7 linked regions of the Homo sapiens genome follow. The protein of the gene in region 4 purifies or fractionates together with the protein of the main gene of each other region. This does not show direct contact. Each region holds a gene or a part of one and is shown on either strand. Other genes may lie near its edges. The genes, in order: HLTF, BEND3, UBN2, PAX5, NFS1, UBN1 and XRCC1.

What was found.
Region 1: the proteins of PAX5 (region 4) and HLTF purify together in Homo sapiens (affinity purification with mass spectrometry, with the first as the bait; one large-scale study listed by BioGRID). This does not show direct contact.
Region 2: the proteins of PAX5 (region 4) and BEND3 purify together in Homo sapiens (affinity purification with mass spectrometry, with the first as the bait; one large-scale study listed by BioGRID). This does not show direct contact.
Region 3: the proteins of PAX5 (region 4) and UBN2 purify together in Homo sapiens (affinity purification with mass spectrometry, with the first as the bait; one large-scale study listed by BioGRID). This does not show direct contact.
Region 5: the proteins of PAX5 (region 4) and NFS1 purify together in Homo sapiens (affinity purification with mass spectrometry, with the first as the bait; one large-scale study listed by BioGRID). This does not show direct contact.
Region 6: the proteins of PAX5 (region 4) and UBN1 purify together in Homo sapiens (affinity purification with mass spectrometry, with the first as the bait; one large-scale study listed by BioGRID). This does not show direct contact.
Region 7: the proteins of PAX5 (region 4) and XRCC1 purify together in Homo sapiens (affinity purification with mass spectrometry, with the first as the bait; one large-scale study listed by BioGRID). This does not show direct contact.

What each region holds. Positions count from the first base shown.
Region 1 is NC_000003.12:149,045,034-149,048,533, reverse strand, and holds part of HLTF (helicase-like transcription factor), read left to right. Parts: intron 1-370; coding exon 371-506; intron 507-2,274; coding exon 2,275-2,454; intron 2,455-3,500. UniProt on the Homo sapiens protein: Has both helicase and E3 ubiquitin ligase activities. Possesses intrinsic ATP-dependent nucleosome-remodeling activity; This activity may be required for transcriptional activation or repression of specific target promoters.
Region 2 is NC_000006.12:107,070,516-107,074,015, forward strand, and holds part of BEND3 (BEN domain-containing protein 3), read right to left. Parts: intron 436-3,500; coding exon 1-435. UniProt on the Homo sapiens protein: Transcriptional repressor which associates with the NoRC (nucleolar remodeling complex) complex and plays a key role in repressing rDNA transcription.
Region 3 is NC_000007.14:139,306,487-139,308,736, forward strand, and holds the end of UBN2 (ubinuclein-2), read left to right. Parts: 3' UTR 1-1,750; downstream 1,751-2,250.
Region 4 is NC_000009.12:37,027,769-37,031,268, reverse strand, and holds part of PAX5 (paired box protein Pax-5), read left to right. Parts: exon of another isoform or gene 1-2,349; intron 2,350-3,181; exon of another isoform or gene 3,182-3,324; intron 3,325-3,500. UniProt on the Homo sapiens protein: Transcription factor that plays an essential role in commitment of lymphoid progenitors to the B-lymphocyte lineage. Fulfills a dual role by repressing B-lineage inappropriate genes and simultaneously activating B-lineage-specific genes.
Region 5 is NC_000020.11:35,692,853-35,696,352, forward strand, and holds part of NFS1 (cysteine desulfurase isoform a precursor), read right to left. Parts: intron 1-3,500.
Region 6 is NC_000016.10:4,857,481-4,860,980, forward strand, and holds part of UBN1 (ubinuclein-1), read left to right. Parts: intron 1-509; coding exon 510-596; intron 597-1,087; coding exon 1,088-1,183; intron 1,184-1,544; coding exon 1,545-1,679; intron 1,680-2,384; coding exon 2,385-2,488; intron 2,489-3,183; coding exon 3,184-3,500. UniProt on the Homo sapiens protein: Acts as a novel regulator of senescence. Involved in the formation of senescence-associated heterochromatin foci (SAHF), which represses expression of proliferation-promoting genes. Binds to proliferation-promoting genes.
Region 7 is NC_000019.10:43,548,028-43,551,527, forward strand, and holds part of XRCC1 (DNA repair protein XRCC1), read right to left. Parts: intron 1-3,500. UniProt on the Homo sapiens protein: Scaffold protein involved in DNA single-strand break repair by mediating the assembly of DNA break repair protein complexes. Negatively regulates ADP-ribosyltransferase activity of PARP1 during base-excision repair in order to prevent excessive PARP1 activity.

The sequences.
Region 1 (3,500 bases), on a different chromosome or scaffold from region 4:
CACAGTACCTTTACTAGAAGGTAAGGAAAAGAATGTAAACTTAAACTAGTTGCTTTTTCCTTCTGCTAGTGCTGCTGCTTTAAAAACTAAATAAGCAGATGTACTTGATAAGGAGAAAGTTGAATTTTCCAGTCTTTTTCTTGGCTAGTGTGTCATGTGAGAGCTAAAAATTAGAGCAAAACTGTATCTTGAGATGTGTATATTTTTAATAAATGATTATAGTCAACACTTGATAGTTTAATTTAATTGATAATGATGAGCCTGGTACAGAGTGCCCATTTTCAATTGTTGTCTTCTCTGATTGGGCCAAATAGATACTCTTACTGGATACTCTGGTTAAAGAGTTATAACAGTTTCCTGTTATTTCTAGGTACTCCAATCCAGAATTCTTTAAAGGACTTGTGGTCTCTTCTTTCCTTTTTAAAACTTAAACCATTTATTGATAGAGAATGGTGGCATAGAACAATACAGCGTCCTGTCACAATGGGAGATGAAGGAGGACTTAGGTAAGTACTTTCAGACAGTGATTAATATTAGTTACAAATAACTGTTAGTAGCTTGAACCAGTTGGCACTTTCTTTACTATTTTAACTTGACTCTTAACTTTTCCTTCTAAAAAGTGTTTATGGCTCAGTACCTTTGTCTTTCAGAACCTAGTGATGCTTGTTTGGAAAGACAAAGATTTCTAATTGTCGATAACTACCCTTCCCCTGTTGTGGCTAAACTGAAAGGAAAGACATAACTGTTTTTTGTGTGTTGCTAAGCCCCAAAGCCCCAAAACCAGCATTAACAGATTTAGCAGGAAACATCGTATATCCTTTGAGGATCTAATATGCATTAAGTTTTCATATCTTATATAGCTTTATTTATTTATTTATGTATTTATTTATTTGAGATGGAGTCTTGCTCTGTCGTCCATGCTGGAGGGCAGTGGCGCGATCTTGGCTCACTGCAACCTCCGCCTCCTGGGTTCAAGCGATTCTCCTGTCTCAGCCTCCCAAGTAGCTGAGATTACAGGTCTGCGCCAGCATGCCCCGCTAATTTTTGTATTTTTAGTAGAGATGGGGTTTCGCCATGTTGGCCAGGCTAGTCTCAAACTTCTGACCTCAGGTTATCCTCTTGCCTCGACCTCCCAAAGTGCTGGGATTACAGGCATGAGCTACCACACCTGGCCTTACATAGCTTTATATAGTGAATGATGTGAGGTACCATGACCTTAGCAAAAGTTGTATAGGAAAGTTTTATGTGGTTGTTTCTGGTGGAGATAGATAAAAGTTGAGAACATAAATTAAAACTCAGTGATAGCCATTTTGCAAGATGTAATGTGGTTCAACTTTTTGGCTAAAGCACCGGTTTATAGACTGAAGATTTGAGAGCTATTAGTGGGATATAAAATCATTATAAAGGTGGTAGCCAGCATTTAAAAAGACAATGAAATAGAGAAGAGATTAGTAAATATCGGAGTGCATGATACATAGTAAGTATTATTTTGTGAAATATTTGTTTCTTTTGTATGTGTTTGTATATTTTTGCTGGATAGAATGTGTTTCTTACTGTGAGTTATAGTGAGAAAGCTTCAAGAGCCACTAACCTAGTTGGCAGTACTATCCACTTGATTCCTCAAAACCAACTATTTAAACTCCAGGAAATTGTATTTATATTTCAATGTTGGGAAAAAACAAGAATTGATACATCTCTTTTTTTCCAGTACTGAGAAAGAAATGTAAAGATTGTGGAACCTGTAAAGCATTTTTCTGTGTTCTGAATTACCATATTATCTTTTTATTTTGGGGGCACTCATTACTTTATACAATTACTTATTTATATACTTTTGATTTTAATATTACAGAATGTAGTATCTTACCCATATTTGTATTCTTACAACATTTAATTCAGTGCCTGGCACTTAATAGATACTTAGAATTTGAGTGTTGACTATTCGGTGATGGAGTTGACAGGACAGTTGAGAAGTAAAAGAGTTAGTGATTGGAACAAAAATGGGGAACAGAACTTACGAAAATAAGGACAGGATATAAAAAGATTAAACTATGTTAGGTATTGAGGGGAAATTTCCATACATTTGTTTTAATAATTTTATTTTTGTAGAATACTTCTGTGATTATCAGATTGGTTAAAATCCCAAATAAGGGATTTTAAAAACACTTTTACAGAAGCTATAAAACAGTAACAAATTAAAATGTTCTGTTTCGTTCTTCTTGGATCAATTTATGTAGAAATTAAAAGTTACATAATTATTTGTTTTATTCTGATTAGGCGTTTACAGTCCCTAATTAAAAATATTACACTTAGAAGAACAAAGACAAGCAAAATTAAAGGAAAACCTGTTTTGGAGTTACCAGAACGTAAAGTATTTATTCAGCACATTACACTTTCAGATGAAGAGAGAAAGATTTATCAGTCTGTGAAAAATGAAGGCAGAGCCACTATTGGAAGGTATGGAGAAAGAAAACCATGTTAAAAATTAGTTTTTGTTTACTTTGTTTCCCATTCACTGAATGACATTATTTAGATGTGTTAGCAATAGTTTGAAGTATACTGAAAGATAATTTGCTTCTATGAATTACAGTGTTTTTTACAAATCAATAAAGTGAATGAAATAATAGTATAATTCACCAGGTAAGTAATTTTTTAAGTTAGGAAATAATTTAAAGCTTACTTTAAATGACAAGTTCTCAATTGCTAGCCAGAAGATTTTGCTTGCTTCTATTTCCAAAATCGTATGGAAATCTGGAAATAGGAACTGATGAAATAGGTTTAACAAGAAGATTAAGGATTGGTAGAAGGTATGAAATTCTGGTCCAAGCAAGATCAGGTTTAATGTGAGCCCACAGGGAACAGAATGAATAAGAGACAAGTGAAAGCAGAATAGGACTGTGAAAGGGGAATCTTCAAAACATAAAAACTTCAGTGAGGTAGGTACAAAGCAGGTTTGATAGGAATTAGAGAGAGTGGGAAAGATTGTTCTAAGCAGCAGATTTCTGAGTTCAAAATCTTCTTTCTTTTCATATTCTTTCAACAAAAATTTATTAAGTGCCCACTGTGTGCCAGGCACTTATACCCATTGGGATACAGCAGAATAAAACAGACAAAAATGCCTGCACTCGAGGAATTTATATTTTAATGGGAAGAAACAGATAATTTAAAAACATGATTAAGTTTTAAGGAATAAAGCAACGAAAGGGGATGGGGAATGCCAAAGCTGTTTTAGTAGGGTATTAAGGAAGACCTCACTGAGAAGATGATATATAGGTAAAGATCTAAAGGAGATTGGGATTAAGGGGTGTTTCAGCCAGAAGGAAGAGCAAGTGTAGATGCTCCCAGTTGGGAACATGCCTGGTGAGCTTGAAGAATAACAGAGAAGCAAGTGTGGCTGGATAGTATGAACGAGAGAAAATAGTCATGATATCAGAGATTTATTGGAATGGGGGTATGTAACGCATATGTCAAGGACTTTGGCTTTTACTTTTTATGACAGGAAA
Region 2 (3,500 bases), on a different chromosome or scaffold from region 4:
GCTCACCTCAAGGGAGAGCAGGTCCACCTTGCTGTGCAGCTGGGACATGTTGGACGTGAGGGTGTTCAGCATGTAGAACATCTTCTGGATCAGGAAGTAGATGTTGGGGTCGTTGTCAGTGCCTGCCCCGGTGCTGCCACAGTCCCGCTTCTGTGGCTCATTCAGGAGCCGCAGTGACGAGGGGCTGTTGCTGGCGTTTGCCTTCTCAAAGAGCTCGTACACGTTTAGCAGGTCCCCCGAGGGAGGATTCTTCTTCTCCATGATCTTGTGCGAGATGCCATACAGAGGCTTCTTGTAGGAAGGGGTGGTGGCATCGTTGCAGGGCTCCTCCTCTCCAGGCCACACATTGCCCAGGCTCCTGCCCCTGCCGGCCTGCTCACCATTGCCTTGGCAGGGCGAGCTGTTCTCACGGTTCCGCATGCCTGCTAGGAGAGCCTGCAAAACAAAAATCATTTCCCAGAGTGTTAGGTGGGTGCTGTGGTTTATGACACTAAACAAGGGTCTGTGTAGCACACAGAGGCCGAGGTCAACCTTGGGAGCATGTAAGAAACTGATTCCTCACCCTGAATCACTCTGTCATCCAAGGATGCACCACTGATACAAACCTGCATCCCCACCACCCCAAACCTGCTGCTCTCCCCATTCCCTGAGAAAAGACTCAGGCTGGGCCCAGGGAGGCTTTGCGCTCTCACAGGGCACCAGCAGTGGACTTCCTTTCCGTCAGAGGGCTGACACTGATGCTGGCAATACTGGGCAAGAACTCTGCAAGAAACAGGAGGAAGAGCATAGGAAGGCAACGGGCTTGTGCAGCTGCCGGCCACGGGCAGGTCACCCCATGGACCCGTGCCTTCGTCTGCTCTCAGGAAGGGACAGAGATTCCTACCTATGGTAGCTCCCAAAGGCAGCAGTGTGTCCTTTTAGCCTGCAGCCTTTGGGAGAGCAGGCGTCCCTTTTCGGGAAGGCTCATCTGGGATGCATGGTCGGGGCACCTGAGAACTGGGCTGTGGAGAGCGGCTGTCTGATGCCAACTCCACCACTGCCTGAAATCACATCTTAGACCAGAAAAAGCCGGCCCAGAACTTTCTGGCCTGTGCAACTGTGAGACAGTAGAAACAACCCCCCGTTTCTGAAAAATCCACAAGTATATAAACTATGTTATATTCATACAATGGAATATTACTCAGCAATAAGATATTATTGATACAGTACACAAAGTACTCATGATAAATCTCAAAATAAATAACAAAAAAGAGGTCGTAGTGTATGATTCCATTTGTGTATGTACAATTCTAGAAAACGCAAGCTTGCCTATAGTGACAGAATGCAGATAGTCATTGCCTAGGGATGGCAGGGAGAATTCGATGGGACACAGAGAATGAAATGGAGAACGTCAGTGGGTGACAGATGTTTATCATCATGACTGTGGCTGTGGGTTCACTGGTAGACACGTGTCAAAACGTATCAAATTGTATACCTTAAATATGTATCCTTCTTTGAGTTTCAGCCATAACCTAATAAGCCTGTTTTTGACAAATGTTGAATTCGACCCAGATACTTATGTAAATGTATATTTGAGTTTTAGGAAAGCAGATGAGCTAGTCAGTGAGCGCTGGTGGGTGTCGGGGGAGCAGGGAGCCTTTGCTCCCACTGACAGGCATGTGCCTCGGGCAACTGGGAATGGACAAGAACAAACGGCATCCTGGGGTGCTTCTCTCCACACTTGGGAAGAGTACAGGTGGCTGGGACTGGCCTAGCCCAGCGCTTCTTAAGCTCTAGTGTACACACTGAATCACCTGGGGTCTTGCTGGAATGCAGAGTGTGAACCCTGGGCCTGCATCTCTAATAAGCTCCTGGGTGCTGTGGCTGCTGTCTATCCTCTCTGAGTAGCCAGGGCTTGGCAGTCAGTGTTTGCTCTCAGTTTATCTCATCCAGGCAGATCAGGGTTATTTGAAAGTTTTCAGGTAACTAATGCCAGCACAAAACAGTGCATGAGGTGTTTTTCTCTGCAGCCTCAGCCAACGTAGGGAAAAGAGACAACCTCAGAAGCGAGGCTTCGTACAGCAAGTGAGCTATATGAGGCTGAGAATAGGCAGATCCAGGGGGAATAGAAACCAAGAGCCCAAATAAACAGAAAACTTTCATCATTCTGAACCTTCCATGTGTTCTTTTTCATTTAAATTAATGAACGGCTGGGCGTGGTGGCTCACGCCTGTAATCCCAGCACTTTGGGAGGCCAAGATGGGTGGATCTCCTGAGCTCAGAAGTTCCGCCAGCCTGGGGAACATGGCGAAACACTGTCTCTACTAAAAAAATACAAAAAAAATTAGCCTGGCACAGTAGTGTGCACCTGTAGTCCCAGCTACTCAGGAGGCTGAAGTAGGAGGATAACTTGAGCCTGGGAGATGGAGGCTGCAGTGAGCTAAGATCTTGCCACTGCACCCCAGCCTGGGTGACAGAGTGAGACCCCATCTCAATAATAATTAATAAATTACTTCCTAGACTCTCTCTTTTGGATAATAGAATAATCTGACTCATATTAGAGAAATGTTAATTCTTCTCTTGTGCCCCCATGAGGACAACCATGCAAAAGAAAAACTACTCCCTTAGTGACCTTATAAAGGGACTCGTAAGTGCATTAGTTATCACAGAGCTGGCCAATACTTCCTTCAGGGTTTGTATGTGTATGTATATATATATATATATATATATATATATATATATATATATATATATATATATATATATATATGTATGTGAGCAAATGGTCAGTGGCAACTGGCCCTTGTGGACCCCACTCCCCACCCCTCCCCTCTACAGCACTCACAGGAGCAGAGGACCAAGGACATACCAGAGTGGAGGCAGCCTGTCAGGGGTGGCCAGCCACCTGCCCCACTCCCTCTGGGGTCTCCTTGCCAAGCTGTCCCCATCCTGTCAAACTGCATGATGGTTGTGCGATGGGACCACGTTGTTCCTGAGTCTATCCCCAGTGCCTAGCAAAGTGCCCAGGGTACAGAAGAGGTCAATGAATTTCTGTCAACCACACGTGAATAAAGCAGGGCAAAGTGTTCCACCATTCTCAAATACATGCTTAAGAAAAGTGAGGCCAGGTGCAGTGGCTCACACCTGTAATCCCAGTATTTTGGGAGGCTGAGGCAGGGGATCTCAAGCCCAGGAGTTCAAGACCAGCCTGGGCAACATGGTGAAACCCCACCTCTACAAAAATAAGCTGGGAGTGGTGGTGTGTGCCTGTAGTCTCAGCTACTCGGGAGGCTGAGGTAGGAGGATTGCTTCAGCCTGGGAGATTGAGGCTTCGTAAGCTGAGATCACACCACTGCACTCCAGCCTGGGCAACAGAGCAAGACCCTGTCTCAGAAAGAAAAAGAAAAGGAGAAAAAAAAGAAAAGGAGCTGTTCTGATAAGAGCACTGGCATGAAGGTGTGGCTAAGAACTCAGCTCAATCAGCAAGCATTCTGTTTGTGACCTTGTAAGCCTCACCTTCC
Region 3 (2,250 bases), on a different chromosome or scaffold from region 4:
CCTATTTTTGAGTCTTGGCTATGCCTTTGTAATTAGTTACATATACCTTCTGAGACCTTCAGATAATCAATGGGCCTTTCCCCATTAGAGGTAGGTTCCCAGCCTACAAGTATTTCCTGTGATCCATGGCAAGCCTCCAGAGAAAAGATTCAAGCTTTGCACTGCCCTTTTGTTGATTGTCATTGAAAACTTACTTTATTTCAGAAAGTATCAAAAATACCAAATTGGTCTTTCAGAGAGTATGTAAATCTGGGGCTTGCCCTTGGATTTCACTTGTTAAACACCCTCAAACTTAAAAGAAGAAAATAGATCTCCAGCTGGTGAAAATTTTGTGCCCCAAATAATATATTAATCCAAGTCTACCAAGGTAACTAAGTAATGGATGTTTTCTCTCTTTTATTACAAGCAAGAAAGTTCATTTGCAGTTGTAAAAATGATTACCGAACTCCAGACCTATTTGCTATAACTGATTGGAAATAATGATTCTGATTTTTAGTCTGGGTAAACACATACTTCGGTGTGAATTTTGATAAGGGAAAGACTTGTTTGGTAGCCCAAGGAAAAACAGGATGTATTTATACAGTGAATGTTCACTCTGCAGAGGAACTTCCCTCCAGTTACATCTTCCTCATACATTAGCCACCTCCACACTTGACATAGATGCCAACATGTTTCAAAACCAATCTTGAAGGAGCCTAAAGAGTTGATGGTCCTCTAGGTGAAAGACAAGAATTACTGTATTGCATTTGCTTATAGGGAGGTGTGTTTTTGCTAACTTGAAGGGATATACTGTATTTCAAATAAGTGTGTGACTTAATATTTTGGGATTTTTTTTTCCTCCTTTAAAAACTGGACCTGAACACAAGCTTTGAGTTGATGTTTGTAATAATCTCAGGACCTGAAAGATTGTAGCATTTAGTGTGTCTTAAAAATTATGTACTGTACCAGCCATGGATTTTTGTAAATATACCTGTCTCCCTTTTTTGTATTTTAGTAAAAAAAAAAAAAAATAAATTTAAATAAAAGGGGGTGGTGATGACATGTGAATGGGTGCGGGTATGTGTGCGTGTGTGTTTGTATAAGGCTCTTTTGAGATGAACTGGTGCTTGTTTAATTTCCAGCTCAAATCGGAGCAGGAATATGGACAAACTGCTGCTACTGAACCCTGCACTGAGCCGAGGTATTTCCATTTGGTTAACTAAACGCTAGCTACCAGGAAATGACGCAGAAGTCACGTTCTTCTTCCCACTGCCATCTTGCCTTTGCATTCTCAGTTCTACGTGCCCTTTGAACTTTAATGGTAAAACATTTCACACTTTGGATGGTTTGCTTGTCTCTAGTTTTTAGAAAGCTCTTATCACTCCTTCCTAAGAAAAAAGAAGGGCAGGTAAATTTTTTTAACCAAAAAAAAATCACACATTTCATAAAACCCTGATGAATTTTGGATATGTGAGAGGGCATAAACATTCCTAAATATGGACCTGTGAATTTAGTAAATTACCCCCATGAATATACTCCTTCAGTGCAGGGATTTTTGTGTTTTTTTTTTTTTTTTAATTTTTTTGCAACAGCCTTGCTCATATTCCAGGTGTAGCTAGCAAACCCCTGTTTTTGAAGCAAGAGCCTTATTTGATTCAGTGTAGATGTTTCCTGTCTATCCTTTGTGACAGGGCCTTTTAATGAGTGTTTTTTCTTTTTGTATATGTTACGTGTTTGTTGTTGTATTAAATAAAGAGGAATGTACATACTATCCTCGTGTCTGTTGTGTTATTGAGTTACCTTGGGTTCTAACATCACACTCTCAGCTGTTGGGGAGTATCTGCTGTCCATATCACACTGTGCTAGGTTTATAGGGTACAAGAAGTAAAGGACCCAGTCTCCTGCCTCCCAGTATACTCACAATTTGCAGTCACATGATAAGTTAAAAGATAATGGTTCAAAATCTGTCACAAAGCTACATTTTGGTCCATTTGTGTTCCATTGCTACCTGACATTTGAGTTCACAGTGGGGAAGAAACGGGACTGGAGTAATGTGGGAAGACTCAGTGCAGTGGATGGCACTTGAGGTGGGCCTCCAAGAACTGGTGGAATTTGGCCAAATCAGGAAGGTGGAGCATTTGCTGTGAGGGGCATGTTTGGACAAGTAGAGGAAGGCAGAGCGTGGGAGTCCTTGATTGTGACTCACTCTAGGTTTTTTGGGTAATAGGGTATGTGTGTATTTGATGGTGCTACTACGGTCAGGACTTGAAA
Region 4 (3,500 bases):
AAGTCTTTGGGAGAGAGAGTAGTCCCAGCGCCCCTGGCCTGCAGGACATGCTGGTAATGATAACACACCCCGACTAAGGTGATTTTACATGATTCTTGAAAAACCTGGTTAAATTCTCATTTTTTCTCCATCCTCTTCAAGAACTCCTGAAAACAGGGACAGGTCAAGTAGAGCAGACTCCTGATCCAGGGGCAGGAATCATGCAGGAATCTGCTGTGCCTCCACTTGCTGTATAATTTCAGGTCAATTTCTTTCCCTCTGATACTTAATTTTTTTTATTTTTTAAAAATGAAGTTTAGACAGAACTCAGTGGGTTGAGACAGCCATGCTGGCAGCATCCCTGATCTTTCCAGAACTGAGCAACCAGTCTGAGCCCTATTGGGCCTCACTTTGTCAGAAGCAAGAACAGGGAAATGGGCTGGACTTGGGTTGAGAGAGTCGATGTCAGGCTACTAGAACACTGTAGCAGCCCCCACATCCTGAAGCCACGGTAATGCAGTGCGCTGGGAGGCGTGGAAAGGGAAGCCGGGAGGGGGTGTGTCCCCAGTGAAACGAGGTCTCTGGCTTCTCACACATTATTCTCAATGGGCTGTCTTTCAGTACTAAAACTTTCAAAGGCAATTCGGTTCACATAAATTGAGTTTCTTCCTGGATAGTTTCCTTTCGCGGTCTCCTGCCCCCAGCGCCTAGCACAGGGCCCGGCCCAAAGCCCTGTTACTGGGAGAAAGAAAGCGCATCACTGTAGATCAGAGTGAGGCCCGACTGCGTTGAGAGCCGCGGTGAGAGCTGCTAGTCTCGCTCTCCTGGACCCAGGCTGCGGCTCGTGGGCGTTCAGAGACAGGACTGAGGCGCAGTAGCCCGGCTCCACCATGGACTTGCTGTGCAGCCTCGAGCTAGTCACGTAACCTCTCTGGGCTGTCGTTTGGTGACCTGTAAGGCTGGGCTAGGTGGTCACGGTATGAGGTCCGGTCGCGCCTTTTGGGGTTGGAACTTCCCAGAGGCCGCCCGCTCGGGCGGTGATGAATCACCCCTATCCAGAGGGAAACTCCTTCCCCCAAGAACGCCGAGAGTTGCGGGAAGGGGCTGCTCTGGGTGCACAGGTAAGACGGGTCCTGTGTGTGCCACGCAGCAGAACACTGTCCCGAAGCCGAACACCTACTGTGTGAAAGGGAGAATCGGCGCTACTCCTGCTCGGGCCGTGCCCCGGGGATTCTATGCAAGCCTCACGGGTATCCGAAGGAAAACCTGCGTGTGCGGGCATATTCCAGCCGAGTTCTTCGATTTGGCAGCATCGCCCCTCCCCCACCATCCCGAGAGCGGCTCTGGAGAGGCGCTTTTGAGAAAGGTTTCCAGCCCGCAGCCTTTCTTCTACCCCAGACTTGCTGTGTGACTTTGGACAAGTCGTATCCTGCCTCTGGGCCTCGGGTTCTGCACCCGTGAAATGGAGAAAGCATAGCTTCGAGGCCCTTTTAGCTCTAAGAATCTAGAGAACCTGGGTTTGTAGGCCTGAGCTCAGCAAGAGAGGCTGGGGGTGGGGGTGTCACTGGCTGCATCCCTCAGGGCGTCCCGCACTCCCGCCTCTCCAGTAGGTGTGCAAGCCGCCATGTTGAGTCTGGGCCGAGGATCTGAATTCTGGTTATTTCCGACCCACTGGGCGCCATCGGGTGAAGCCAGTGCAGGAAGTCTATTCCATCCCAGTCCCTCTCTGCTGTTGCGATCTTCCTGCTCCAAGGCCGGGGGTGAAAGGGGAAGATCCGGACAGGCGGGGTTCCAGACAAAGAAGAGATAACGCCGCCACTCCACCCCGGCGCGCACTGCAGCCTCCTGGGTCCCCAGAGTCCCGCCTGGGGCCGTTTTCCGCAGCTGTGCCCTGGTGGGGGGTGGGGACGGGTGTCAGCGCCGGAAACTTGTCTACTGGTCAGGGACAGCTGGGTGTGGAACAGGGACAGAAGGTGGGCCCAAGAGTCGACCCCAGTGTAGGAGTTTGAGAAGTAGAGCATGCGTAGAGAGAAGGCAGAGGAAGGGAAACCGAGGCAGAGAATAAAACAAGAGGATAACCCAGGAATCCTCTCATGATCAGCCTGTACTCTTCCTTACAAGCCCAGTCCTGGAGCAGGCATCTCAAAGCCCTTGTTTTGTGGATTTATGTTTAATATTAGCGGATCATCACTCATGAAATAGAAATTGAGTCTTCGGACCACTCCCATGAGTTGCTGGGGCAAGGGAATCCTCAGCGTCGTTCTTGAGCCAGGGCCCAGATGGCTCACAGAACTATAGCTTCTTGGGTGAAGAATGACTGTCACACGCTTCCTTTTCAAGGTCCAGTTTCTTTGATTGTTGTCTCAGAGCCTTAAAACCCACAAAGAAGCGGACTCGCTAGTCAAAGATCCCTTGTGTAGCAAGAGAGTTCTGCTACAAATCCATCCATTTTGTCTACATAGGGACAGGAACTTCCCCTGTAGAGGGAAGGTCAGTTTCCCATCAACTGGAAGCTGCCGCATTGCAGCGCGCCTGGCCGCTTTGCTTGACCCTTGCAGATAGAATGCGCCTGTCCACCCGCCCGCTTCAGGGACCCTTATTAGCCCTGGACGCGACTTGGCTCATTCGGTTCTCAAGAAGCCTTGAGCCGGGTGCGGAATTTCTCCGGTGGACAGAAGCGCAACACCAGCTCCCAAAGCCTCTGGCAGTTCCTGATCTGAGGCAGGAAAGAGGGCCAGCCACTCTGCTTGGGCAACCTGGCCCAAAGCCTTAGCCCCTCCACCCAGGTGCGCCCTGGTGCGCCCCAGTTACTAACTTTAAAGGAGTGTGAGATATTCTCCCCCTTCCCCCAACGTCTCTGCCTTTCGTTAATGCAGCAATGAGGGCCCTGCAGGTGGAGTGAGGGAGGAGGGTGGACGACGAGGAGCCAGTGGTGGTTTAGTAGGTACTTGATAAAATTAGGAAATAAAATTAGGAAATATTTCCGTGGAAGGAGCCTTCAGTAAAATCTAGTTAACCCCACTCTGCCCATTTTACAGAAGAGGAAAGTGAGGTCAGAACTGGCAGATATGCACACACTCCGATGCACACAATCCGATCCCATCACGAGCCTGATGGTACAGGATCCCTACTGCGCTCCTTGTCTTCCTCCAACATACATTTTTTGTTTTTTGGTTTTTTTGGAGACTTCCCCCATTCTCACCCTTCAATCGACTGCTCTCAAGCCTTGAGAGCGTCCCAGGATCCCAGCATCGCTGTGGGGAGGTCCAGCCCGCGTGGGACCCGCAGCGGGACTCTCCAGGCACTGCGTGGGCCCCTTTCCCCTCCCCACAGCCGCGATCCACTAGGCCTTAGTCCAGCGCGTTTGTCAATGAACGTGGCGCCGCCGCCTGGGCCCCGCCCCCCATTCTCTCCCATTGCCCAGGTGTCCGCTAATCAGGCGGAGCCTGTGGGCTGCTTAGCCAATGGGGCGGTGTTTCGGGCCAGGGCCGGCTGACGCCACTCTGATTGGCTTGGTGGAG
Region 5 (3,500 bases), on a different chromosome or scaffold from region 4:
TTAGCTGGGTGTGGTAGCAGGCTCCTGTAATCCCAGCTACTCAGGAAGATGAGGCAGGAGAATCGCTTGAACCCTGGAGGCAGAAGTTGTAGTAAGCCAAGATTACGGCACTGCACTCCAGCCTGGGTGACACAGCAAGACTCCCCCTTGGGAAAAAAAAAAAGAATTAACAGTATCAACTTTGCAGAACAGGATCAGGGACTGGGGTCCTTGGGGAAGGAGAGGAAGATTTACACTTCATTTTATTTTATTTTTGTTTATTTATTTTTTGAGACGGTCTCATTCTGTCACCCAGGCTGGAGTGCAGTGGTGTGGTCTCGGCCCACTGCAACCTCTGCCTCCCGAGTTCAAGCAATTCTCTTGTCTCAGCCTCCCGAGTAGCTGGGACTACAGCCACCACACCCAGCTAATTTTTTGTATTTTTTAGTAGAGATGGTGTTTCACCATTTTGCCCAGGATGGTCTCGAACTCCTGAGCTCAGACAACCTGCCTGCCTCGGCCTCCCAATGTGCTAAGATCACAGGCTTGACCCACTGCACCCGGCCTACACTTCATTTTAAATCTTTCCATTGGTTTTAAAAAAACACACCATATGTGACAGAATTATTTTTCAAAAATTAAAAACTTGGAAAGAAAATGTGCATCTCTCCCCAGAGCTTATAAAAGACTATTACCTTTAACAGCAGAATAAAAAGCCAGGTGCAGTGGCTCAAGCCAGTAATCCCAGAACTTTGGGAGGCAAAGGCAGGAGGATCACATGAGCCCAGGAGTTCAAGACCAGCCTGGGCAACATAATGAGAGCCGCATCTCTACAAAAATTAAAATAACAGGCCGGGCGCGGTGGTTCACACCTGTAAAACCAGCACTTCGGTTGGCCAAGGCAGGCGGATCACAAGGTCAGGAGATCGAGACCATCTTGGCTAACATGGTGAAACCCCATCTCTACTAAAAATAGAAAAATTAGCCAGGCGTGGTGGTGGGAGCCTGTAGTCCTACCTACTCAGGAGGCTGAGGCAGGAGAATGGCGTGAACCCAGGAGGCAGAGCTTGCAGTGAGCTGAGATCACGCCACTGCACTCCAGCCTGGGCGACAGAGCCAGGCTCCATCTCAAAAAAAAATAAATAAATAAATTAAAATAACAAAATTAGACAGGCGTGCTAGTACACGCCTGTAAGCCTAGCTACTTGGGAGGCTAAGATGAGAGGATTGCTTGAGTCCAGGAGTTCAAGGCTCCAGTGAGCTGTGATTGTGCAACTGCACCCCAGCCTAGGTGACAGAATGAGACCATGTCTTTTTTTTTTTTTTTTTTGAGACAGAGTTTCGCCCTTGTTGCTACAGTGCAATGGCGCAATCTCGGCCCACTGCAACTGCAACCTCTGCCTCCTGGGTTCAACTGATTCTCCTGCCTCAGCCTTCCAAGTAGCTAGGACTACAGGGGTGTGCCACCACACCCAGGTAGTTTTTGCATTTTTAGTAGAGACGGGGTTTTACCATGTTGGTCAGGCTGGTCTCGAACTCCTGATCTCAGATGATCTGCCGGTCTCAGCCTCCCAAAGTGCTGGGATTACAGGTGTAAGCCACTGGGCCCGGCTGAGACCCTGTCTTATAAAAAATAAACACATAAATAAAATAAAAGCAGAATATTAAACCATATAGGACAAAATTATAACTATGTAAAAATGGTCTGTTCATGAGGACAAAGAACATAAATGAGAAACATTTATAATTGATTTATACTCTATTTTATCCTAAAAAGTATTTACATCAGTAAGTAAAAATGGTTGTGGGGCACTTTGGGAGGCCGAGGAGGGCGGATCACGAGGTCAGGAGATCGAGACCATTCTGGCTAACACAGTGAAACCCTGTCTCTACTAAAAATACAAAAAATTAGCCGGGTGTGGTGGAGGGCGCCTGTAGTCCCAGCTACTCAGGAGGCTGAGGCAGGAGAATGGCGTGAACCCAGGAGGCGGAGCTTGCAGTGAGTCAAGATCGTGCCACTGCACTCCAGCCTGGATGACAGAGTGAGACTCAGTCTAAAAAAAAAAAAAGAAAAAATGGTTGTGGGATGGTGATGATAGTTCAAAATGTTACAGTTGTTTATAAAAATTTCATTTAAATGACATTTCACCACCCACCCACCTTATTTTATCTCAGTTACCCATGATGTAGATTTCTTTAACAATTTATAGATTATTTTACTCTACCAATCATGGAGATTAAAAGAAACATCATCACAGGTACTCTTAGCGATCCTTGACCTGTTGGTTTGGAATCTGTGGAGACTTCCAAAGAAAATATTTTCGAAGTTTTGAAAATGCTCTCCATTTCAGAAACCATCTCCACCTTTGGAGGAACCTTCACCCCGACTCTCTGGTCTCTGCAGTCCCAAGGAAGGATGCCTTCCTGTTAACATGATCAGGCAGAGTGCTGATGACCCTGAAGCCCGTCCTAGGCCTCCTATATTCAGGCCAAGGTCAAAGAAACCAACACTGGCAGCACAGTTCAAAGACAAAGATGAGAGCAAGTGGAGCCAGAGTTCAAAGTACAGCAAGCCACAATTTCTCAGAGCCTTGGCATTTACTCACATAATCCTGGCAACCAGGCCCAGTGAAATCTGACTATGTTCTATGAAACACCAACGTGACTACTAAAAGTACCTTTTCCTTGCATTAGCACCAAAGATCTTCTATGTACCCAGGACAAAATGACTGATCCCAGAATGGGTGACCATGTGAATGCCTGCAGAGGGCACCACAAAGACAAGCACTTCAAAATGGAGATATCTAAAGAAACAGGAGGAACTTGTTGCAAATAGATCTGATCAGAAAGAAAAAGGAAGGCTGAGAGGAGGACAGCCCTGAAATCACATATATAACTTGTTGTTACTAGATAAAAAGAATGGAGAAAGGCCGGGTACGGTGGCTCACACCTGTAATCCCAGCACTTTGGGAGGTCGAGATGGGAGGATCATCAGGTCAAGAGATTGAGATCATCCTGGCCAATATGGTGAAACCCCATCTCTACTAAAAATATAAAAATTAGTTGGGCATGGTGGCGGGCACCTGTACTCCCAGCTACTCTGGAGGCTGAGGCAGGAGAATCACTTGAACCTGGGAGGTGGAGTTTGCAGTGAGCTGAGATTGCGCCACTGCACTCCAGCCTGGCGACAGAGTGAGACTATGTATCAAAAAAAAAAAGAAGAATGGAGAAAAGGTTCAATCACCATTATCCACTCTCTGAAGTAACTGCCAGACAAAAAAAAAACAAGTGGTTAATGGCCTGAGGGCCACCTCCTTTGCTATCCAACTGCCTCACTCAACTCAGACCAACAGCAGCAAAGACTTAAGAAAGAGTAGACTGCAAAGGGTTAAAGGAAGCAACAAATCAGAAAGACTGCAAGCCTTCTCTTCACAATGGGGTGGGGATGGATGGCTGCGAAATACATATACGAGTCCAAATGATGGAGGGACACTATCTCCTAGGTCAGGAAAGCCCACATA
Region 6 (3,500 bases), on a different chromosome or scaffold from region 4:
TTAACTTTGGTAGCACCGAGAGAAGTGCAAATTCAGACCTTTCTAAACAGTATGGCAGAACGGCTCTCAAGAACTTGCACCACATTCAGTGGGATTTTCACGTTTTTGAGCCCTTGACTATTTTGGAAGTCAATGGACTCTTTCTTAGAATGTTTTTAAATGCCTGAAGAAAATTTTAAGAGTTACAAAGGAAGTCCACTTTATTGAACGTGGTTGTGTAGCGACTGGGCATCTCCTTCTAAAGGCCCTTTGCTGTCTTTGAGTCCTGCAGCCCCTCATGCTGTGGTGGATGATTGTAGGCATTCAATCAAGTTTTATTAACCTACATTAAGGGAAATTTTACTTTCTTAATTAAGATAAACATTGATGAGATGGTAGCATGTTTTCTACCTTGCCCTTTTCTGGAAAACATTGTTTTTATAGAGGTATTGAGTAATCAGTGAAGTTTCTATGAATAAGAACATGGGAATATTTTCTGACTTATTTTTTGTGGAACGATCTCTTTACAGAAGAAAGATCTGTCAGATCCTTTCAATGACGAAGAAAAGGAAAGGCATAAAGTAGAGGCCCTTGCCCGAAAATTTGAAGAAAAATACGTAAGATTTCTCTCTTGAATAACAAAACAACCTCATTGGGTGGGAGACGTTTCCACACTGTATTCCTTTAGTGGATCATCATGTAATAAACACTGATCTGGAAGTAAGCCTTAAGCATGGAGAGAAGAGAAGCAGTTATTAAACCTAACGCATTAAGGTACAGAAAAGGGGCATGGCAGAGCTAGTGTGAAGAGCTAACTGGACAAATAACCGAGAAGGGCCTGTGGTCGCCTTAGAAGAAATATTTTGGTACAAAGCATAAGAAGCCATTTAGTTCATTTTTCTGTCCTAGGACATTTTATACAGGTACAAATATGTTCTATGTTAAAAGGTTTTCAGGAAAGGAGGTTTTGGGGTTTGTGTGTATGTGAGAGAGTGACTGTTTTAGTTAGTGCATTACCTCTTTGAGTCATAGCTGATGAAGTTCAAGGCCACAGTTAATTCTGTGTGTTTATTCAAAAAGCATGTAATCTATTGCTTTCACATTTTAGGGTGGAAAGAAACGTAGAAAAGACCGAATACAGGACTTGATCGATATGGGGTATGGTTATGATGAATCCGACTCCTTCATCGATAACTCTGAGGCGGTAAGTAGTTACTGAAAATGCCGTGTCAGACCCACTGTACCTGTAGCTCCTCCTGATACTGACCAGGAAGCTGGGGGTGGGGTCAGAGCAGTCGTGCCCTCTTCCCAGCATGAGGCAGTAGCAGCACTGATGAGAGACGAAATGACATTCTTTATCCGGGTCTTAGTTCCCTCTTCAGAAAGTGATGACCAGATCTGTCCAAAACACCTTGTAGCTCAGACATTCATGTTTGACCAGAGGATGTTTTAGCATGCTCTTGGAAGTGGCAGAGGAGCACAGTCACATCTCTCTCGAGACCCACTTTGCACCTTCGGACTGCAGAAGCAGAACTTGGAGCTGACAGTTTGTTTCCCATCTTCAGTATGATGAGCTTGTTCCTGCTTCTTTGACTACGAAGTATGGAGGATTTTACATTAACTCGGGAACCCTGCAGTTTAGACAAGCATCAGAGTCTGAAGATGACTTCATTAAAGAAAAGAAGAAAAAATCTCCAAAGGTTAGAATGTGCTTGCTTTTGGATTTCAGAAATGCTTTTTGACGTGACCCTATCAGATCAGTAGGTGACTTGCCAGAATACGTGGCGCTTGGCCGGCTCAGGAGGATGGTGGAAAGGCAGAGCCGTGCCAGGTTGATGGCTCGCCTCTTACACGTGTGCCCTAATGAGGACACGTGCCCGTGGGGGCTCTGTTCAGCACTTGGTCATTATGTCCATGTCACATGACATCCCAGCAGGCTCAGCAGGGGTCGTTTCTGGAGGTGGCCTCAGGGTGGGAAGGCTGTGGAATGAGGGAATGTGTACCACTCTTGCTGACCCTCTTCTGTGGACATGTAGAGGACTTCAGTTTCAGGGCTGCCATCCCACTGAAAACCAGTCAGCCTTAGGATCAGTGTGTTTAAAAACCTGTCTACCACTGCCTATGTGTTTAAGATGAGAGGTAGGGCCCACTTGTAACTTTCAAACTACAAAGGTTTCAGGCTCCAGAATGGTCACTGTTGTCTCAGCCCTGGGTGTTTCCAGGAGACACCGTCGGTGGGAATGCTGTGGGTTTGTGGTCCAGGGACTGATCTGAGAGCTTTTGTTCATGAAGGAAATGAGACAGGTCTCAGGATGTGCCCCGGGCGGAGCAAGGCCAGTGCCGTGTAGTGCACTTGCTCCCTGAGTTAGGGAGCCGTGTAACTGTGCCTTGTCTTTAATTCTCAGAAGCGGAAGTTGAAGGAAGGTGGTGAGAAGATAAAGAAGAAGAAAAAAGATGACACTTATGACAAGGAGAAGAAATCGAAAAAGTCCAAGTTTTCCAAAGCCGGGTGAGAGGCAGCAGCTTCTTTGCTAGGATAAAGCCTGAACTGTTAGGGCAGGACGACTGGGAGCTGACTCACCTCCTCCCCACAGCTTCGGAAGAGGCAGCAGGGCCTGGCCTTCCTGTCCTCCCGCACGCCTCCCGCAGTGCCATTCTGGGCATAGACGCTCACCTCTCAGTGTGTCAGATAGTTCCACTGTCAGTGTTGGCAGCTATTGTTGTCACTGTGTGACTGCTGATGTTTCTCGTCCTCTGGGGTGCTCCTCTCTGCCCCAGTTCTCCTTCTGTCTCCGCTGTTTTCCCTTGTTGTCTATGGTCATGCTTCCTTCTCCTCACTTGGTCTCACCCCAGCTTCTCTTCAAGTTGCTGCTGTTCTCTGCTGCTCCTGCTTTCTCCCTCTAAATACTTTTCTTGCTCTCCCTGCCCCTTTTTGCAACCTTTTATTTCAGCCTGGCAGTGGTTTCTAAAAACCCGTCGGAAATTTAGCATATGTGACACTGTGTTGCTAACCTGTATTAACTCTCAAGCTTTGGTCTCAGCAAGAACGAGCTCCATATGCCAAGAGGAGGGAGGAGGAATGACAGGGTGGACTGTGACAGGTTCTCCTGGAGACCATGACCCTGGGAGCAGGGGTGAAGGCCTCTGGAGTTCCCTTTGGAGGTGTCCTATAGTCTGAGTGACCAGTTTCCCTCTTGCTTGCAGCTTCACAGCCCTCAATGCCAGTAAGGAGAAGAAGAAGAAGAAATATTCTGGGGCTTTAAGCGTTAAAGAGATGCTAAAGAAATTTCAGAAAGAGAAAGAGGCTCAGAAAAAAAGGGAGGAGGAGCATAAGCCTGTTGCGGTCCCATCAGCGGAAGCTCAGGGCCTGCGGGAACTGGAGGGTGCCTCTGACCCCTTGCTCTCACTCTTTGGCTCTACTTCTGACAACGACTTGCTCCAGGCGGCCACTGCCATGGACTCGCTGACGGATTTGGACTTGGAGCATCTGCTCAGTGAGTCTCCAGAAGGAAGTCCCTTCC
Region 7 (3,500 bases), on a different chromosome or scaffold from region 4:
CCCGTCCGGGAGGGAGGTGGGGGGCCAGCCGCCCCGTCGGGGGGGAGGTGGGGGGCCAGCCGCCCCATCCGGGAGGGAGGTGGGGGGGTCAGCCCCCGCCCGGCCAGCCGCCCCTCCAGGAGGGAGGTGGGGGGCGCCTCCGCCCGGCCGCCGCCCCGTCCGGGAGGTGGGGGGCGCCTCTGCCCGGCCGCCCCTTCTGGGAAGTGAGGAGCCCCTCTGCCTGGCCACCACCCCGTCTGGGAGGTGTACCCAACAGCTCATTGAGAACGGGCCATGATGACGATGGCGGTTTTGTGGAATAGAAAAGGGGGAAAGGTGGGGAAAAGATAGAGAAATCAGATTGTTGCTGTGTCTGTGTAGAAAGAAGTAGACATGGGAGACTTCATTTTGTTCTGTACTAAGAAAAATTCTTCTGCCTTGGGATGCTGTTAATCTATGACCTTACCCTCAACCCTGTGCTCTCTGAAACATGTGTTGTGTCCACTCAGGGTTAAATGGATTAAGGGCGGTGCAAGATGTGCTTTGTTAAACAGATGCTTGAAGGCAGCATGCTCATTAAGAGTCATCACCACTCCCTAATCTCAAGTACCCAGGGACACAAACACTGCGGAAGGCCGCAGGGTCCTCTGCCTAGGAAAGCCAGAGACCTTTGTTCACTTGTTTATCTGCTGACCTTCCCTTCACTATTGTCCTATGACCCTGCCAAATCCCCCTCTGTGAGAAACACCCAAGAATGATCAAAAAAAAAAAAAAAAAAAACACAACAGTAGCAGGTTGACACTTACATGGGACTTCCTACATGCCAGGTAGCACGTGACAAATACTGAGTCACTGAATCCTGGGGTAGGTCCTATTTTTGGCCCCATTTTACAGGTGAGGAGACTAAGGCACAGAGAGATTATTTAATCTGCCCTAAGCCACAGGGAAGGTATGCAGACACAAATGAATGTATTAGCTCCATTTTTCTGAGACATACATGTTAAGACCCTTCTGCATTTAATTTGGTTGTTTTCAAGCTGGTGAAATGCTGTTTAGGTAAGTCACACTCATAAAACGGTGCCTACAGGAGATTCAGAGGATTTAAAATGTAGTAGTTCATTAACAGTCAATAGCAGGTTTACTTAACTTTTTCTTCAAAGTGCTCTATTCAAAGATTAAAAAAAAAACTAAATTTGTGCTTATTAGGTATGGAGAGTCATCCTCTTGGGGTCTTCCTTCTATAGTTGAATTTTTATTTTATTTTTATTTTTTGAGACAGAGTCTCGCTCTGTCCCCAGGCTGGAGTGCAGTGGCATGATCTCGACTCACTTCAACCCCTTCCTCCCAGGTTCAAGGGATTCTCCTGCCTCAGCCTCTAGAGTAGCTGGGGCTACAGGTGTGCGCCACCATGCCCAGCTAATTTTTGTATTTTTTGGTACAGATGGGGTTTTACCATGTTGGCCAGGCTGGTCTCAAACTCCTGATGTCACGTGATCTGCCCACCTTGGCCTCCCAAAGTGCTGGGATTACAGGCGTGAGCCACTGCACTCAGCCAAATTTTTATTTTTGAGATAAGGTCTTGATTTGCCACCTAGACTGGAGTGCAGCGGTGCAATCATGGCTCATTGCAGCCTGAACCTCCTGGGCTCAAGTGATCCTACCACCTCAGCCTCCCAAGTATCTACGACTACAGGTATGTGCCACCACACCTGGATAATTTTTTTCATGTTTTGTAGGGATGGGGTCTCACCACGTTGCCTGCATCATATAGTTATTTTTTTTTAGTTTATAAATGAGTACAAGCCAGAATTTTTAAAAATATAAAATGCTTTGTGAATTCTTTTTGTTAAGACCAGTTGCAAATCCAACACTGTTTGTCTTTTTCCCTTTCTTTCATGCCCTCCTTAAGCTCTCCCAGGCAGATAATAACCCAAATCTGGTTCCTTCTGCCCCAGATATAGCACCAGCCCATCCCCTCTTCTGTTCCTGAGGCCCCAGCCTACTCAGGAGTCCCCACCTGCAGCCTCCCCTTGACACTTCATCCCTCCCAACAGAGCCTGCCCCTGCCCCCATCAAACCTTCTGTGACTCCCCTCTGCTCACAAGAGGAGGCCTCTGGAGCTGGATGGGCTTCAGAATTTTGAATCTTTCAGGTTTTAGAGAGGCAAATGGCTGGCATACAGATTGTTACATAAACTCCCAGGAGGGCCTGGGGGAGCACCCCATGATCAAACCCACTAATATTTCTGCAGTTAAGACCATGACACACTTAAGGGGATAAAAAAAAAAAAGTCCGCAAATAGCCTCACATTAGTTCAGGATGACTGCAGCGAAATGAGTTTGTGCTGAACCTAGAAAAGAACTTTCAGCTTCTAGAGATGTTTGGATTCCTGAATAACAGATGAGGGTTCTGTGAAGCTGCATGGAGCCCAGTGTGTAGCCTGGGCTCCGGAAGCCCCTTCTGACCTGAGCCCACCCACCTCACAGCCTCGCTATCCCCCAAGGCAAATAATTTCTCAAATACACCAGGTACAACTAACTTCTGAACACACTCAGGCCATGGAGTACAATCCAGTCTCCCCTCCAATTCATGGACCTCAGATATGAGCTAGCCTTTGCTCAGTCCAAAGCCTTCTGTGGTTCCTAATGCCCCAGTCCCATTTTTCCTGCCACTTCTTGCCCCTGTGTAAGCTCAGCCTCACCTACAACTCCAGGCAGACAACAGGCTGACCTGACCTTGTCTCCTCTGCCCAGCATGTTCTCTGCCTCTGTTCAGCCTGAAAAACCTCTCTTGGACCTTGAAGACCCCTCGCTCTCTGCGGGCCACCCTGTGGGGCTTCCACTGCACTGTTACAACAATTCTGATCCCTCATCAAAGTGAGAAGCCTTCAAGGGCAGGGCTCAATGACTGGATCCTCAGCCTTGCACATTCCAGCCTGGCACCAAGCAGGGGCTTCTGGGACTCATTTTGGTTTTTGGGTTTTTTTTTTCTTGTTGAGATGGGAGTCTCGCTCTGTCACCCAGGCCAGAGTGCAGTGGCACGATTTTGGCTTCCAGGTTCAAGCGATTCTCCTGCCTCAGCCTTCCGAGTAACTGGGATTACAGGCGTGCGCCACCAAGCCCAGCTAATTTTTGTGTTTTTAGTAGAGATGGGGTTTCACCATGTTGGCCAGGCTGGTCTCGAACTTCTGACCTCAAGTGATCCACCTGCCTCAGCCTCCCAGAGTGCTGGGATTACAGGCGTGAGCCACTGCACCGGGACTCACTTTGAATGAATGAATATGGACCCTAACACTTGTTCTCCCACCCCTGAGTTTTTGCACAAACTGCTCCTCCAGCCTTTTCTGATAAGCAGGCTTCACAGAGCCCTCTGTGACCTCCCAGGCAGGTCCTCCTTCCCTCATCTGGAGTACCCCAGCCCCTGCCCCGCTCCTCTCAGTAGTCTGCTGGCTCTGGGCTGGGACCACCTGTGTTCTCCGCTGGCAGGCCCCAGTCTGACTCCCCTCCAGATTCCTGGCATTG